Linked DNA regions of Homo sapiens: region 2 is linked to region 1. The links come from fine-mapping of genetic effects on gene expression. Tissue or cell type: whole blood. Region 1 holds a variant in brackets; the other region holds the start of a gene. All regions are shown on one strand. Distances are from middle to middle.

Region 1 (8,104 bases):
TTTTCACATTCTTATATTTAAGGTTTCACCCTTGTAGGCATGTAAGATTTGCTTTTTTGAAATTAAGTTTTTTTCTAATTCAAAGTATTTACTACACTATATCTAATGTGTTTACTGATAGACTTAGGTTTGAATGTACCATCTTACTAATAATTCTTTCTATCGGTTTTTCTGTTACTGTGTTCTTTTCTTTTTTCTGTCTTTTTTCCTTGTTTTGGATTAAGGTTGTTTGTTTTGGGTAATTTCTCCTTTATTAGCATATGAAGTATACTTTTCTTTCAGTTCTTACCCTAGATTTAACAAGCATCCTTGACTTACTGAAGTGTATTATACATGATCACTTCTATCATTTCCTGGATAACCCAGCGACTACACAATTTTTTTTTTTTTTTTTTTTGGAGACGGAGTCTCCCTCTGTGGCCTGGGCTAGAGTGCAGTGGTACGATCTTGGCTCACTGCAACCTCCGCCTCCCAGGTTCAAGTGATTCTCCCGCCTCAGCCTCCCGAGTAGCTGGAATTGCAAGTGTGCACCACCACACCCTGATGATTTTTGTATTTTTAGTAGAGACAGAGTTTCACTATGTTGTCCAGGCTCGTCTCGATCTCCTGACCTTAAGTGATCCACCTGCCTCAGCCTCCCAAAGTGCTGGGATTACAGGTGAGAGCCACCGTGCCTGGCTCCAACAACTATACAATTCTTTCACCTTTCTACCTGTTACGGTAGTCTTGTCATGGATTTCAATTTTCTATGTATTTTAAGCCACAACAGACATTCTTATTAATGCTTTCTATAGTCAATATTCATTTAGATTTATTCACATGTTACTTTTTATTGCTCTTTGTTACTTCAATTTTATTGCCCTTTGTTCCTTTCTGTATTTCCATACATCTATTTTGGATCCTGCTTCTGGAACTAACTTTAGAATTTTTCTTCAATATAGTATCATATTTAGTATAGTATATTTAGAAATACCTTTAGTATTTTCCTTTCAGTACAGATCTTATGGTGACAAATTCAATTTTTGTTTGCTGAGAAGTCTGTATTTTGTTTTTATTTTTGAAAGATATTTTTGGTAAGTAAGGAATTCTAGGTTAGTGCAGTTATTTTCTTTCAACCTTTTGAAGATGTCATTGGTTTCTGTTGCTTCTGTTGAGAAGTCATCTGTCAGCCCCATTGCTGCTCTCAACATTTTCTCTTTGCATTGAGTTTTAGCAGTTATATTCTGATGTGCCTAGCTGTAGCTTTTAAAGTATTTTTCCTGCTTGTGCTTGTTCATAGCACATCTTGAAACTGTGACATGATATCTTTCATCACAGCATTCACCCTCTTCTCTCTCATCTTGTTCAGGACTCTAATGATAAGTGTTAGACCTTTTCACTATATCTCTAAGACCCTTCTTGGTATTTTTCCATTCTTTTGGTTCTTTGTGATTCAGCCTGGATATTTTCTACTGACTCGTCTTCTCCATTAATCTTGCCCTCATTTGTGTTTAATTCTATCAATGGAGTTTTTTTGTTAACCCTATGTTTCATTTAAAAATCAATCCAGTTTCTAATTTTTTTATCTTTTTTTTTTTTTTTAAGAGGCAGGGTCTTGCTCTGTTGCCCAGGCTGGAGTGCAGTAGCACAATCACAGCTCACTGCAACCTTAAACTCCTGGGACCTAAGACTCCCAAGTAGCTAGGACTATAGGCAGGTGCCACCATGCCTGGCCAATTTTTAAATGTTTTGTAGAGACGGGGTTTTGCTGTGTTGCCCAGGCTGGTCTTGAACTTCTGGCCTCAAGTAATCCTCCTGCCTCTGCCTCCTGAAGCACTGGGATTACAGCTGTGAGCCACCATGCCCAGCCTGAGTTTTTAATTTCATCCATCATAATGTTCAGTTCTATAATTTTGTTTTTTTAGAAATAGTTTCCAGTTCTCAAATGAAATTACCAATCTTGTCATCTATTCTCCTCAATATTTAATTGTACTGCTTTTAAAGTTTATGTCTGCAAACTCTAATATCTGGTTCTTTTTTTTTTCCTTTTGCTTTTCAGTCAGTTGGTCTTATTTTTTGATATTCATGGTAATTTTTCATTAAATGCTAGACATTTTGAAAAATGAAAATTTTGAAAAATTGAAGAGATATACAAGGCTCTGGATCTTCCCTCAGGCAGGATTTACTTTTGCTTCTGGGAAAAGTAGGCTTGAGATAAACTTGACCCTGGGCTTTGTGAGAGCTAGTCTAGGTGTGATTAAACCTTACTCTCAGGTTGTAGCCCTACAGGGGTTTTAGCTGAAAACGTGTGTGTGTGTGTTTATAAAACCAGGACTCCTCTTTCATGGTGAGTCCTAAACCTCCAATTTTTGTTACCCCAAGCTGTGAGACATTTTTTTTTTTTTTTTTTTTTTTTGAGACAGAGACTCGCTCTGTCTCCCAGGCTGGAGTGCAGTGGCATGATCTTGGCTCACTGCAAGCTCCGCCTCCCAGGTCCACGCCATTCTCCTGCCTCAGCCTCCCCAGTAGCTGGGACTACAGGCGCCCACCACCACACGCGGCTAATTTTTTGTATTTTTAGTAGAGACGGGGTTTCACTGTGTTAGCCAGGATGGTCTTGATCTCCTGACCTTGTGATCCACCTGTCTCGGCCTCCCAAAGTGCTGGGATTACAGGCGTGAGCCCCCACGCCTGGCCGCTGTGAGACTTCTGAAAGCTCTACTCAACTTTTCAGCTACTTGGACTCTGCTTAGGACTCGGCAGGTGCCTCAAGGGGATAAGAAGGCTTCGGTGCTCATCTCCTCTCTCTACTTTTCTCTTCAGCATCTTGGCCCCTCGTGTCCTGACTATGTTGATATCTCTCTGATGCATTCAAACACATTTAAGAAAAAAGAACAATTGCTTTTAAACTGCTGTCAGCAGGAGGGTTGGTCTGATACAAGCTAGTTTACCATGATCAGAAGTAAATCCAGCTGTGGTTTCCATGATTATTTTTATTGTTACTATTTGAAAATCCTTCAAAGAAAGATGTCACCCTGTGGCTGAGAGCCCTTTAAAAAAGTCACAGGATGGAGGCTTCTTTGCATCCCTTCTGTGAAGGAGTTTCTAAATTATCAAAGCAGGAAGTGACATTTAAGGAGCATCTTTTTTGTGTAAAGCACCTGCTACAGTTGTTGCAGAAAGCAGTCCAAGAAATAAGGAATATGGGGTTTGCTGGGGAAGGAAAGTGGGACCTTCGCATGAGAGGAGGTGAGGAATGCATAGGACAAGGGGAATCTGGGTAAGAGGGTGGGTCCAGGGGATACAGTATGAGAATGGGCAGTGGAAGAGGACTCTGGACATGAGGTCCGGGAAAGTGAACTGTATCTTCACCCAACAGATGCCAGTGGGGTCTCATCCCATGGGGAAGAGGTGCCACGATGCAGTGAGCTGACAACTCCACACACATGTTGTAGGCCTCTCTGCTTCCTTCCAGCTATAGTTCTTTTACCTTTTCCTGCTAAATATTGCCAACCTTCTTAATATGGTCATCTGGATGTCCCATAGGCCCCTCCAGCTTGGAATAGCCCAAAATTAAGTGATCTGCTGTTGTTGTCAACTTGGCCTCAATACCACAAGGACCTCATTCCCTAGAATCTTCTTTCCTGTATGGTTCTGAGTTAGAATTGGCCAGCTTTGCCTGAGAAATATGACTCAAGGTCCTCTTATTCATCCTGACTGCTGCTGCCCTACTTTAGGCCTGTATCACTGTCTGTCCTGATTGCCTAGGCAGTCGCTTAATTTGTTTTGTTTTGTTTTGGTAGAGATCGGGTCTTGCTGTGTTGCCCAGGCTGATCTCAAACTCCTGGCCTCAAGTGATACTCCTGCCTCTGCCTCCTGTATTTCTGGGGCCACAGACATAAGCCCAGCCTCTT[A/C]ATTTGATTTCTGCATTAGTCATGATCCACTTGGGAGACAGAAACCACATAACAATTTGAATATGAGAAGATTAATATAAGTACTAACTAGAACAGGGGATTGGAGTAATGAAGGAGTGGTAAGAAGTCAGGAGAGCTTTAAAGAATATAGGAATAATGGACATAAGGAGCAGCCAGCACCCCTAGAACTAAGAAAGAACACCCCCAGGCTCTATCCCCAGCTGAGATCCAGATGTTGCTGGGAAGGGCATGGCTGTGCCTCACAATGGCAGAGAAGTCTGGGAGAATGTTCTAGAAGTCTGCCCTTGGGTGCCAGGGAAAGCTGTCATGGAACAGTGTCTGATTAGAGGCACACCTATTTGTGGGGGCACTAGGAGAAGCTGCTAGTTGCCAAGTGCTACTGACCACCATCCTCTGCAGGATTCCTGTTCTGGAAAAGTTGCCTGCACTGCGGGAGGGTGATGTTGGAGAAGCTGTGAGCTCTGTGCTGTTAAGATGAGCCCAGCACAACCAGAAAGGAAGGCCTCTTCCTCCTCCAATGTCTCTAGCTCCCCCTCCTGACAGAGCCTAGCATTGCACCAACTACCAAAAGAAAAATATTTAAAGGGCCAGCTCCATTTTTGAAGAGCAGGCGATGAACAGTAAATTTGGGGTCCAGAGTAATAACTGAATGTCATTCTACCATTATCGAGGGGCCGCATAACCAAGTTGTTAAGAGTGTGGACTCTGCAGTTGGGTTTCTTGAGTTAAAGTCTTAGCTCTGGCACTTAATGTGAGTTAGTGTAAACCTTAAAAGATTTATTTAACCTGTGTCTCACTTCCCTAATCTGTAAAATCAGGTAGTAACAGTTCTAACCTTGTTGGGTTATTGTGCTGATTGGGTTGATATTTATGAAGCACTTGGAAGAGGATCTGGCACAGAGTAAGCAAGGAACCAGGCTGTCTATTGTGATTACTATTACACTCAAATCGTGGTGGCATGCGCCTGTAGTCCTAGCTACTTGGGAGGCTGAGGCAGGAGAATCGCTTGAACCCGAGAGGTGGAGGTTGCAGTGAGCTGAGATCGCACCACTGCACTCCAGCCTGGATGACAGAGCGAGACTCCGTCTCAAAAAACAAAACAAAACAAAACAAAATCCATCCTTCACATTATAGCCAGGATGGGCTTTTCATTGAAGGTATGAATTTTACTCCACATTGCCATGGCATAGACATCATATTCCTTTATTCTTCTCTTTTCTGAGGTGGGGAAGGCATAAGGAGTGCTAATTAATAAATTGTCTTCTGGCCGGGTGTAGTGGCTCACGCCTGTAATCCCAGGACTTTGGGAGGTTGAGATGGGCGGATCACCTGAGGTCAGGAGTTTAAGACCAGCCTGAACAAAATGGCAAAACCCCGTCTCTACTAAAAATACAAAAATTAGGCCGGGCGCGGTAGCTCACGCCTGTAATCCCAGCGTTTTGGGAGGCTGAGGCGGGCGGATCACCTGAGGTCAGGAGTTGGAGACCAGCCTGATCAACATGGAGAAACCCTGTCTCTACTAAAAATACAAAATTAGCCAGGCATGGTGGAGGGTGCCTGTAATCCCAGCTACTCAGGAGGCTGAGGCAGGAGAATCGCTTGAACCCGGGAGGCAGAGGTTGCTGTGAGCCGAAAGTGTGCCATTGCACTCCAGCCTGGGCAACGAAAGAGAAACTCCGTCTCAAAAAAAAAATTAAAAAAAAAAATTAGCTGGGTGTGGTGGCACTTTCCTGTAGCTACTTGGGAGGCTGAGGCAGGAGAATCCTTGAACCTGGGAGGTGGAGGTTGCAGCCAGCCAAGATCATGCCACTGCCCTCCAGGCTGGGTGACAGAGCAAGACTCCGTCTCAGACAAACAGACAAACAAACAAAAAAAGTGTTGTCTTCCAACTCGCCTTGTTTGTTATGGTCTGAATGTTAATGTTCCCCCAAATTCATGTGTTGAAATCTTAACTCCCAAGGTGATGGTATAAGAATTGTGGTCTTTGGGAGGTTTAGGAGGATTAGGTCATGAGAGCAGAGCCCTCACGATTGAGATTAGTGCCCTTATGAAAGAGCCTGAGAGAGACCCCTTGCCCCTTCTGCTATGTGAGAACACAGCAAGAAGCGCCCTCTATGAGGAACAGGCCCTCACCAGACACTGATGCTGCTGGAGTTTTGATCTTGGACTTCCCAGCCTCCAAAACTGTGAGAAATAAACTTCTGTTGTTTGTAAGTCACCCGGTTATGGTATCTTATTTTAGTAGTCTGAACAGACTAAGGCACTGTTCATAGTACAAAAGTTGGAAATCAGGCTGTGTCACTTTGTTGCTTAAAACTCACCTGTGGCTTCCCATTATTTTCAAGATAGAGTTCAGCTCCTTTTCCCTGGATACAAAGCTCTTGATGCTCTGCCCACTTCACCTCCCACCAAACCCTGGCTCAGGTTTTCACTTGAGTCATTCTAGACTTGGTACTTTGCTACCCTCATGCCCTCCCAGGTCGTGCCCCTATTTTCCAACTTTGCTGATTGTATTCCCTCCTTCTGGAATATCATCCCTTCTCCTTTTAGCTAACTTCCCTTCAAGCACCATCGCCTCCAGGAAGCCTTCCATTAATCCCCGAGTCAGTTGCAAAATGCTCCTTTGTCATTTTGCTTTCCAAGTTTTTGCCCTATTATGTCAGAGTGATACACTTCCATGCCTGGCTCCCTGGCTAATGTGGAAACCATGTGGGGTCTTCTGCATATTACTCACAGTTGCATACTCCGTGTTTCAGCACAAGCGGTGCTGCGTATCAGCACTGGCTACGCATTGCATAACTCTAGGGCTGCTGTTTGTAGAGTTTTTCACAACATGCCCTGCTGTTCCCTATGGCCCTGAGCGTCAAATGGAGTCGCACAGTAGGCAAGCAGAATTGTGCCCTGAAGCTCTGGACGTTTATGACAGTGGCCTGTTATACAAACTGGCCTCTCCTAATATAGCACTTCCCTGTTAGGTTGGTTAGGAGTGACTGAAACAAATGTGTTAATGCGTTAAAATGACAAAACCACATTTCTTTCCAAGAGGTGCCAGGGTCTAATTGCTCCATGTTTTTGGGAATCTCAGAGGTAGGGCTGGCAAAGGGGGAAGGAGGAGAGACACTTCCTCTGATGTGACCAAGGACTTTAATTGGAGGCGGCTCCCCCCCACGGTGGCTTTTTCAGAAGCTGGAGTGACTCTTGGTGGTGGCACAGGGATGGCTCAGACGTCTTCTCCTCCTGCAGGGGAGTTTCTGAATCAGTCTTCATGACTCTTGTCCACTGCCCTCTTCCTCATGGAAGCCCAGCAGCTGTGCAGCCGCAGGGACCACGTGGGTGCCGCCGGCTAGAATGCTCATGGCCTCCTAAGGATGCACGCCTTGAGCATCATGCGGTTGTCATAGGGGAGGCGTGGATGTCTTTTTGGTACAGCACTGTGGAGAGAATTTGTGTTCAGATCTGAAAGAACAGAGGAATAAACTTATCCTGGGTAAAGGCTTTGAGTGATGCGCGTATAACCTATCTTGGCCATACTCCACTCAGAGACTCCTCAAATCATTAATCTCTTTAAAAATAAAAGTTTGCTTGTATGAGCTAAGAATGATCTCGAGCTGGGTGAAGCAATGGAGATTTTAGAGTTTACTCATTACCTCAGCGTGGCCCAGCTGATCCTTATACACATCCACAGATATCATTTGTTGAATGTCTTTTTTTTTGTTTTGAGGTGGAGTCTCGCTCTGTCGCTCAGGCTGGAGTGCAGTGGCGCGATCTCGGCTCACTGCAAGCTCCGCCTCCTCGGTTCACTCCATTCTCCTGCCTCAGCCTCCTGAGTAGCTGGGACTACAGGCGCCCACCACCATGCCCCGCTAATTTTTTGTATTTTTAGTAGAGACGGGGTTTCACCGTGTTAGCCAGGATGGTCTCGATCTCCTGACCTCGTGATCTGCCCGCCTCAGTCTCCCAAAGTGCTGGGATTACAGGCGTGAGCCACCGTGCCCGGCCTTGTTGAATGTCTTCTTTGTGTGGGGCCATATGCATTCACTTACACACGGTGCCTGCCTTCATCCTCCTAACAGCCTGCACAGTGGGCAATATATTATCGTTATCCTCATTTTGGAGAGAAGGATGCTGAGGCTTAGAGAGGGAGGGTCGGCGACATGCCCAAACTCAGTAAGCAGCAGAGGCAGAGTTTA
Region 2 (8,104 bases), 270 kb before region 1:
TCCTGCTATTTCCCTAAGCGCTTCCTCTATGCCAGCACTGAGCCAGGCCCAGGAAGTGCAAAGCTGACCCAGAGTGGGCACGGTCCCCCAGGGAGCTCCCTGCCATGGAGGGTTCAGAGAACTGCAGCCCATCAGTGCAGCGGCCCCCAGAGCAGCTCACACAAAGGCCTTCTTCCACAGATGGGGAAACTGGGATCCAGAGAGGGGAGAGGCCTTGCCTAAAGCCACACAGGGGTCAGGACAAGGCAGGGGTGAAAGTCAGCCTCCTGGCCCACAGTCTGGGCTTTCTCCCCTGCATGCTGTGTTGAAGGCAGTATGACTCCAGGCCTCCCAGGACAGAAGGTCTGTGTTTGTCCCTTTATCCTCATGAACACTTGGATCCTGCTTGATTTGTGTGGCTGAGAAAAGTCAGCAGGCAACTATTTTTGGACACAAAGTTCCCCAGGGAACAGTGCAGCCCGGGAAAGGCTGACTTCTCAAGGGCTGGAGGAGGGAGGTGCAGGGAATACCATTCTTCCCTCCTTGGCTGCGACTCCTGCTCTGTGGATGGGTGTTCGGGGCTTCTATCCTCTGTCCCCGCCCAGTCTTCCTCTCTACCCCCAAATGCAGAGCCCTACAATTTCCTCCAGATCACCCTGTGTATTGTCCTCCAGCCCCACAGTCCCTACCACATGTGAAGAGCCCACTCGGCGCCAGCCTGGGTTGAAGCTTTACTTTTAAATTCTCAATCTGCCCTCCTACAAACATGAGGGTAGAATTTGGCTAAGATCACCCAGCTACTTCCTGCCACAGCAAGATTTGCAACTGTCAATTCTGGCCTAGTGGTACCCCAATATTTTTTTAATCACACAATCCATCAGTAAAAATATATTTGCTCGAACACATCACGCTAATATATTACATGTATTGGAAAGAGTATTTTCAAAAGTGATCTTCTAAAAAGATGCAATCGAAAATGGGCCAGGTACAGCGGCTCACACCTGCAATCCCAGCACTTTGGGAGGCCGAGGTGGGCAGATCACTTGAGCTCAGGAGTTTGAGACCAGCTTGGGCAACGTGGCAAAAGCCTGTCTCTACTAAAAATAAAAAGGAAAAAGAAAATATATACAGGTGACCCTTAATGACAGTTTGAACCACACAGGTCTACCTATATGTGAATTTTCTTCTGCCTCTGCCACCCCTAAGACAGTAGATCAATCTCCCCCTTAACTCCTCCTCCTCAATGTGAAGATGACAAGGATGTAGGCCTTTATGATGATCCACTTCCACTTAATGAAAGTAAGTAGATTTTCTCTTCCTTATGATTTCCTTAATAACATTTTCTTTTCTCTGGCTTACTTTATTGTAAGAAAACAGTACATAATACATATAAGACAGAAAATATGCATTAACCAACTGTTTATGTTATCAGCAAAGCTTCCAGTCAATAGCAGGCTATTGATAAAGTTTTGGGGGAGTTAAAAGTTATAAGCAGATTTTTGACTGCATGAGGCACTCCTAACCCCTGTATTATTCAAGGATCAACTGTATTTTATTTTATTGAGACAGGGTCTCACTGTTACCCAGGCTGGAGTACAATGGCAATCAGAGCTCACTGTAGCCTTGACCACCTGGGCTCAAGCGATCCTCCCACCTCGGCCTCCTGAGTAGCTAAGACCACAGGTATGCGCCACCATGCCTGGCTAATTTTAAAAATTTTTTTTTGTCGAGATGGGGTTTTGCCACGTTGCCCAGGCTGGTTTTGAACTCCTTGTTTCAAATGATCCTCCTGCCTCGGCCTCCCTATGTGCTGGGATTACAAGCATGAGCCACCCACCCAGCTGGTCAACTATATTTTAAATAGAAGCTCTAATCCTTGCTTCTCATACCTTCTGCAGGGCCTGTACCCTTCTTGGAAATCCCTGCCAGGGATCTTAAGCTTCAGTGTGCTTAAGAATCCTCTAAGCGTGCAGTTTCCTGAAACAACCTGCAGAGAGCCTGACTCAGTGGCCCTGGGATAGGGCCCAGGAATCTGCATTTTAAACCAGGGCCTCAGGCAGGGCCTGCCCTTTGAAGTTCACTAGGCCTCCTGGCTCCTGCTGTTATGGCAGGTGGAGAAGAGGCTACAATTTAGCTGTTGCTTTTCTGATTCTGAAGCCTCTGCTGAGGAAGGGGCCGGGGGAGGTGTGCGGTTTTTTGACTTTTTAAAGGGCTTTTTTTCTAGCTCTGCCACAGAGCAGCCTGCCCAATCACAGAGCCCTCTGGGTGCACAAAGAGGAACATCCTGTCTTCTGGGATGACTCAGTCGTGGCAGAAATCTCACTGTAACCAGGGGAAGGTGCACGTCAGAGGCAGCTGCAGTGACTGACTAGAGTTTCGCACTTGCCCCCAGGCGCCTAAACCAGTGAGCCTTTCCTGAGCCAGGCCTCTGCCTTCCATGCGAGCCATGGCCCTCCTCACCACAAAGCCCCAGAACTGGCCAGTCAGCTAGTCAGTCAACAAACACACGTTAGTGCCAACTACCTGCCAACCTCAGGCTGGGACGATGCTGTGATAGAGAAGCAGGCTGGGCATCAGGAGACAGGTGCTAGTCCTGGCTGCTGTTACTCACTGTGTATAGCTGGGCTTGCATTTTCCTCACTGTAAAATAGAGAAAGTACCACCTGCTCTTGATATCGCAAGGGGATATCACCCTGCTAGGGTGGGTTGGGAGGCAGGGTATGGGACTCAAAGAGCTTTGAAGTCCCTGATTGACTCAGCTTCTAAGGGCAACAGCCTCAGAACTGTTAACCTCTCTCCTCCTCCCTGAGGTCACATTTCAAAGTACAAAGATACATACTGAGCACCCAGTGGGCGCAAATTAACTTTTTAAAAAAGCCCTATGACTTCCTACTATATACCAGGCGCTACGTAAGATGCAAAGAATATAGAAAAGAGTAAAAGTGTTCCAAGATTTTAAACGGTGGGGGGTAGTACAATACAGAAGTGTTACCAAAGGAAGCTTTAAGGTGGGCTTGAGAAACAATGAGGATTTGGGGGAGAAGACTGGGGAGGGCATTCCAGGCAGCGGGAACAGCACGGAGGCAAAGGCACGTAGGTCTGAAAGTATGGCCTGACCTTGAAGGAGAGCTATGGGCAGGTGTCCCTGCATGCCAGATAAAGGCAGAGTTGTTCCAGCCAGCCCTCGTTAGGGCAGCAGGGCTGCTCCTAAAAGGCAGTGAGTGGGGTTTGGTGAAGACTCCAGCAGTGTGAGCTGGGGAGGGCTATGGAGTTCAGGGTCCCCGCCATCCCTGGAGAAACTGGCCCCACAAGGAAGTAGCAGCCACTGCACCCTCCTTCTGCACATCTCCTTCTTACACCCAAGCCGCCACTGCCCCTGCTCTCTCAAGGGTCTAACAGACCCCTGAGGTGTCTATCTTCAGTTCCTGGGTGGGATGGACTCTTCTTCCCCACCACCCACACAGGGCTTCTCCGCCCGCTCAGTCATTCCACAGCCAGGGACCCTTCCCTTTATGGCTCAATCCCTCAGAACTGCCCAGACGCCCAGGCTCTCCTTTGCCAGCACAGCTACGCAGCCCGCACAGCCTCCCCGTGCCCTCTGCAGCCCCTTCCCATCCAGCCAGAGCTGTCCAGGGTGCCACCCTGCTTCTACCCCCACCCACACCCTGACACCTCCCAGATGAAGACACTGAGGCACAGAGACATGGCCTGCTCTCACAAGACCTCACAGCCAGGAAGCGCAGACAGAGGATTCAAAGCTGGGGTACCGCAACTCTGAAACCAAGGCTGTCAGATGTGTCAGGGAGATGGGGAAGGAAGACCACCCCCCAAATCAGTAACCAGACCTTCCAAAAAGGCTCAACCATACCCCCACCCACCTGCTGGCAGGGCACAGACTTGCTGTTCTCAAGGGGTTCCCACCAGCTGTGTGGACTCTAGTCCCACAAGGAAGCACCAGCCACTCCCTCTCTGTGTCCTCCCTGCCCCCAGCCCGCTCCAGCAGCAGAGGCCGAGGAGAAAGAGAAACGGTGCCCTGGCTGTTGCCAGCTCTGGTCTTGCCATCCTCAAGAGCTGAGCTGGGTCTGCTGGTCCTCGGACTGTCCTTGGCTCCTCTCCTTGCTCTTACGCAGCTGGCATAAGGGGCCACTCCTTCAATAGGGACCACCCCCCGGCGCCGTCGCTGCCTCCTGGCCTGCTGCCCATGCCTGCATCGTCTCTGAGACCCCTTAGCAACCAAGGACACTAACTCTCCAGGTGCAGACGACGACACCCCAGGCACAGAGATGGACCCGCCTACCCAAGTTCACAAGAGATCAGAATCAGAGCTAGGACTGGAATCTAGCATCCTGAGGCTTGACGAAATCCTCCTTAAATCCACCCTTGCCCTGGAGGCCGGGATCCCCTAAGCCAAGAGAAAAGCGGTGCAGCTCCAGCAGCTGCAACTTCCTGGCTGGGCTGGTCCGGCTGCCTGGACTGTCCCGGAGAGTCTGTGACTGGCCCGTCCAGAAGGAAAGCGGCCTCCCGGGCCCTCCTCCGTTCCAATCCCTTACCTCTCTCGGGCTCCACCACCGTCCTGCCGACCCAGTTTCAGGGGACCTGCCTGTGAATTCTTTGTTCCAAACCCAGGGAGCCCCCTGTCTCCATTGCGCCCTGGCCCACCTCCAGGCCGTTCTGCCAGCCCAAGCTGCTGCTCACAGACCAGCATCGCTCCCCACCTCTCCCCGCCCCTGCCGTGGTTGAGGCCGCCTCGCCTCGGCAGGAAGCGCCCAGCCTGATTTCCTACAAGTGTTTGTCAGAAGGAGGGGGTTTGTCTGCGTGCAGAGCAAGAGCTGGAGGAGCTTAACCCCTTGCAAGCCCTCCGCAGTCAGCGCTGCCCAGGAAAGGACTCAGGGAACAAACTCCTGACGTCCTGGGCTTGGGATCATCTCAGCCCAGGCCCTGCAGGTACAGATGGGGAGACTAAAGCACAGAGAAGGTCAGAGGCTTGGCCAAGGTCACACAGCATGCTGTAGCTCCTACCCTCTAGGCCCTCTTCAACCACGGCCTGACCTTAGCCGAGGCTCCTTCCCTCACTAGGCCTCAGGGCCCATGTGCACGGTGAGAGCTCAGACTCAACACCACTCCTGCCCTTCCAGCTCTGACTCTGCCAATGTGCAACCTGAATCTCAGGGAGACCGTGGTGATTCCTGCCATCTCAACCCACCGTCCTCACCCCGAGGTGGTCCTGCAGCCAGAGTGGGATGTTCGGGGCAGCATGGAGGTGTGAACCTGGCGGATCAGGTAAACTTTCCCTTGTTGTAAGAACCCTCCAAGGGTTCACCAGATGTTGGGAACAGATCGATCCTGATGGTCAGTCGAGCTATCTTTCCTCAAGCCCCACCATCCCATTCCTTCATTCGTAGGTACTCACTGAGCTCCTACTGTGTGGCGGGTGCTTTTAAATCACCTGGGAATATGGCAGGGCCGAAGACAGGCCAGTCCCCTGCTCTCCACTCTAGCAGAGACATGGACAATAAGCAAGCACATGTATAATTTCAAGGAGAGAGCTGTGAACAATGAGACTGGGTGACGATCCGTGTCCCAGGCCAGGTGGCACTGAAGCCTGGGGCTCACCCCAGGCCAACAGAGTCAGTCTCTGGGCATCAGACATTTTAAGTGTCCCAGGTGACTGGCCCTGGTAGAGAACACATGGGGCCAAGAGTAATGGGTTGGAGGAGAAGGGTTATAGGACGGTCAGGAAGGTCTCTATGAGGAGGTGACATTCAAATAAGGCACTGGAAGGAAGAGGGGTCAAAAGCAAGCCACAAGAAGGTTTGGGGCAGAGTGTTCTGGGAGGGCAAGTGGAAAGGCCAAGGTGGGGGAGCCAGCGGGCTTTCCCTGAGAACAGCAAGGCCTGTGTACCCGGGGCAGAGCGAGTCAAGCGGGAGAAGCAGGAGCTTCACAGAAAAGCGGGCACAGGAGCACAAGAGGCTCCCAACACTGGCCCCACCCAGGACCCAGAGACTCTGAGTCAGGAAACAAAAAGAAAGAGGAAAAAAAACAGGCCTCTGTATTGTCCAAAAAGCCCTCCAGGTAATTCTGATAAGCAGCCAGATTTGGGAACCACCCATGTAGGAGAGAAAAAAATCTCAGAGTCACTGTGGACCTGGGTTCAAATCCCAGCCCCATCTCCTGCTGGCCCTGACCTTTGAGGCTTCACGTCTCTAAGCCTCAGTTTCTTCATCTGTAAAACAGGGATAAGAAGAGTAGCCACCCCACAGGGGCTGCTATAAAGATTCAATGACATGATGCCTACCAAGGGTAGAGCGGGGGAGCCAGAACACAGTCATGTATTGAGCTATTTTATTATTGCTACTACAACTATTGCTGCTACTTAGGTATAAGTCTCTGGTCTCCTCTAAAGGCTAGATCTTAATATCTTTCCTGAAGCCTGGCACACTGTTTATGGCTGATGAATGTGTTCTGTGAATGAATGAATGAATGAATGAGTGGACGTTCCCAAGGTCAGCTTGTGAATATCTGGCGTAGCCAGGGCTAGAACCAGGAGCCCTCATCCTGGTAATCGCCCACCCCTCTATCCCCTTTCCTGCCTTTTACCCACATCTGGGTGGCAGGGCTCTCCCTGTAGCCCCCAGCCCCACATGGAGCAGAGCCAAACCCTAATGAGGCCCCTCCCTATCAGCTCTGGAGGCCATGTGTGCCATTGTGCAAGGGGCGGGCTCCCCTGACACCCTGTCACTCACTCACCCTCCCTCCCTGGTCATTAACCCAGGCAGCATTAACCCAGGTGGCTGCCATTGCTGGGCATAGCCTGTGGCCCCTGGATAACCCCAAACCCATCTCAGGGGCAGCCACCTAACACCAAGGAGAACCGCCTGCAGTGCAGTCTGTTCCATTTCCTTGCACCCCCAAGCATGACCAACCCTCCTCCCTGCCTTTGCTCATGCACTGCCCCCTCTTGGATCACTGTCCCCACCCACAGGCCAAATTCTACCAAACCGAAGCAGCATGTCTAAGACTGAGCTCCTAGTATTGCCACCCTCCAAACCCACCCCTCCTTAGTTTGGCCCATCTTTCACCCAGGTACACACTGAGAATCAACTGTGACCCTGGACACTTCCTTTTCCCTTACATCCCATAACCAATCCATCGTCAACTCCCAGTGATTTCATTTCCTAAATTTCACCAGAATCTGTCCCCGTTTCTGCATCCCCACGTGGGTCCCTGGATCGGCCTTGCCTGGAAAGCTCTAGGGTCCACTAATCTGTTCCCCACACTGCACCGATGTGGTCTTCCAAGATAAAAGTTCCAAACAAGACCCTTCCATGCTTCAGACGCACAGCTAGCTACTATGGCTCTGAGAAAGAAGATGAAACTCCACAAGCTGGCCGCTGCTGCAGCCTCTTCTCCCACCACCCTCTCTGCCCTTGCTCAGCATGCTCCTGCCATACAGGCCTCCTTGCTTTTCCTGGGACAGATGTGTCCTGCTCCTCCCCTCACCCAGTCCCACTTCTTTTCCCTGTTAACTTCTAGGCAACCTCCAGATGTCAGCTCCAGCGTGCCCTCCTTGGGGACTCCCCATTTGGAACTATATTTCATATGTGATTATTTGATTAACATCTGTCTCTTCACTCAGTTGGGAGCTCTGTGAGGCTCTCATCATCATATCCCCAGGACCCAGCACACAGGCCCTGATATACAATAGAAATACAATAAATATATCCTGGATGATCCACTCAACCTAGCTACTTGCCCAAGCCTGACTCATAGCCCTCATAACAACCCAATGAGGCTGATGTGACAACCCCATTTCACAGTTGGGTAAACAGAGGCCCCTAGAGCCCAAGCAGCTTGCCCAAGGTCACAAAGGTGATGAGCTGCAGTAGAGTTTCAAACACACAAAGACCTGGCTTCTAATAACCAAGCTTGGTGCTCACAACATTGCAGCCCGCAGAGATAATTAATACCTGTGCACAATAAAATCGAGAGTGGAGCTTCTTACCAACTAATTGCAATTCACAAAGCCAATGTTCCAATTTTATAGTGAGGCCCTGGTTCCACACAGAGCCTTTTGGTTTCCCAAAATGCTTTCTTCTCCTTTATAGCACTAGATGCTCAAGAACAG

Evidence for each region. PIP is the estimated chance that this variant, and not a neighbour inherited with it, causes the effect.
Region 2: AKNA starts here. The variant in region 1 is fine-mapped to the expression of AKNA in whole blood (INTERVAL, PIP above 0.99).

The regions. Positions count from the first base shown.
Region 1 is chr9:114,649,263-114,657,366 of GRCh38, forward strand. It overlaps TEX53 (testis expressed 53), which reads right to left. Exons shown (of 2, transcript NM_001354645.2): 2 at 7,042-7,370. The coding sequence ends at 7,267. Among named protein-coding and RNA genes, the nearest start is that of TEX53, 4.5 kb to the right of the region's middle. RefSeq lists enhancers at 4,078-4,584, 4,412-4,461, 4,472-4,551. The variant A/C (reference allele first, on the strand shown) is at 3,894.
Region 2 is chr9:114,383,331-114,391,434 of GRCh38, forward strand. It overlaps AKNA (AT-hook transcription factor), which reads right to left and starts at 4,652. Exons shown (of 22, transcript NM_001317950.2): 1 at 4,530-4,652. LOC124902253 (a long non-coding RNA gene) reads left to right here and starts at 4,720. Exons shown (of 3, transcript XR_007061742.1): 1 at 4,720-4,923; 2 at 5,115-5,259; 3 at 7,513-8,104. RefSeq lists enhancers at 1-192, 2,225-2,294, 2,315-2,364, 2,485-2,544, 3,315-3,464 and 3 more.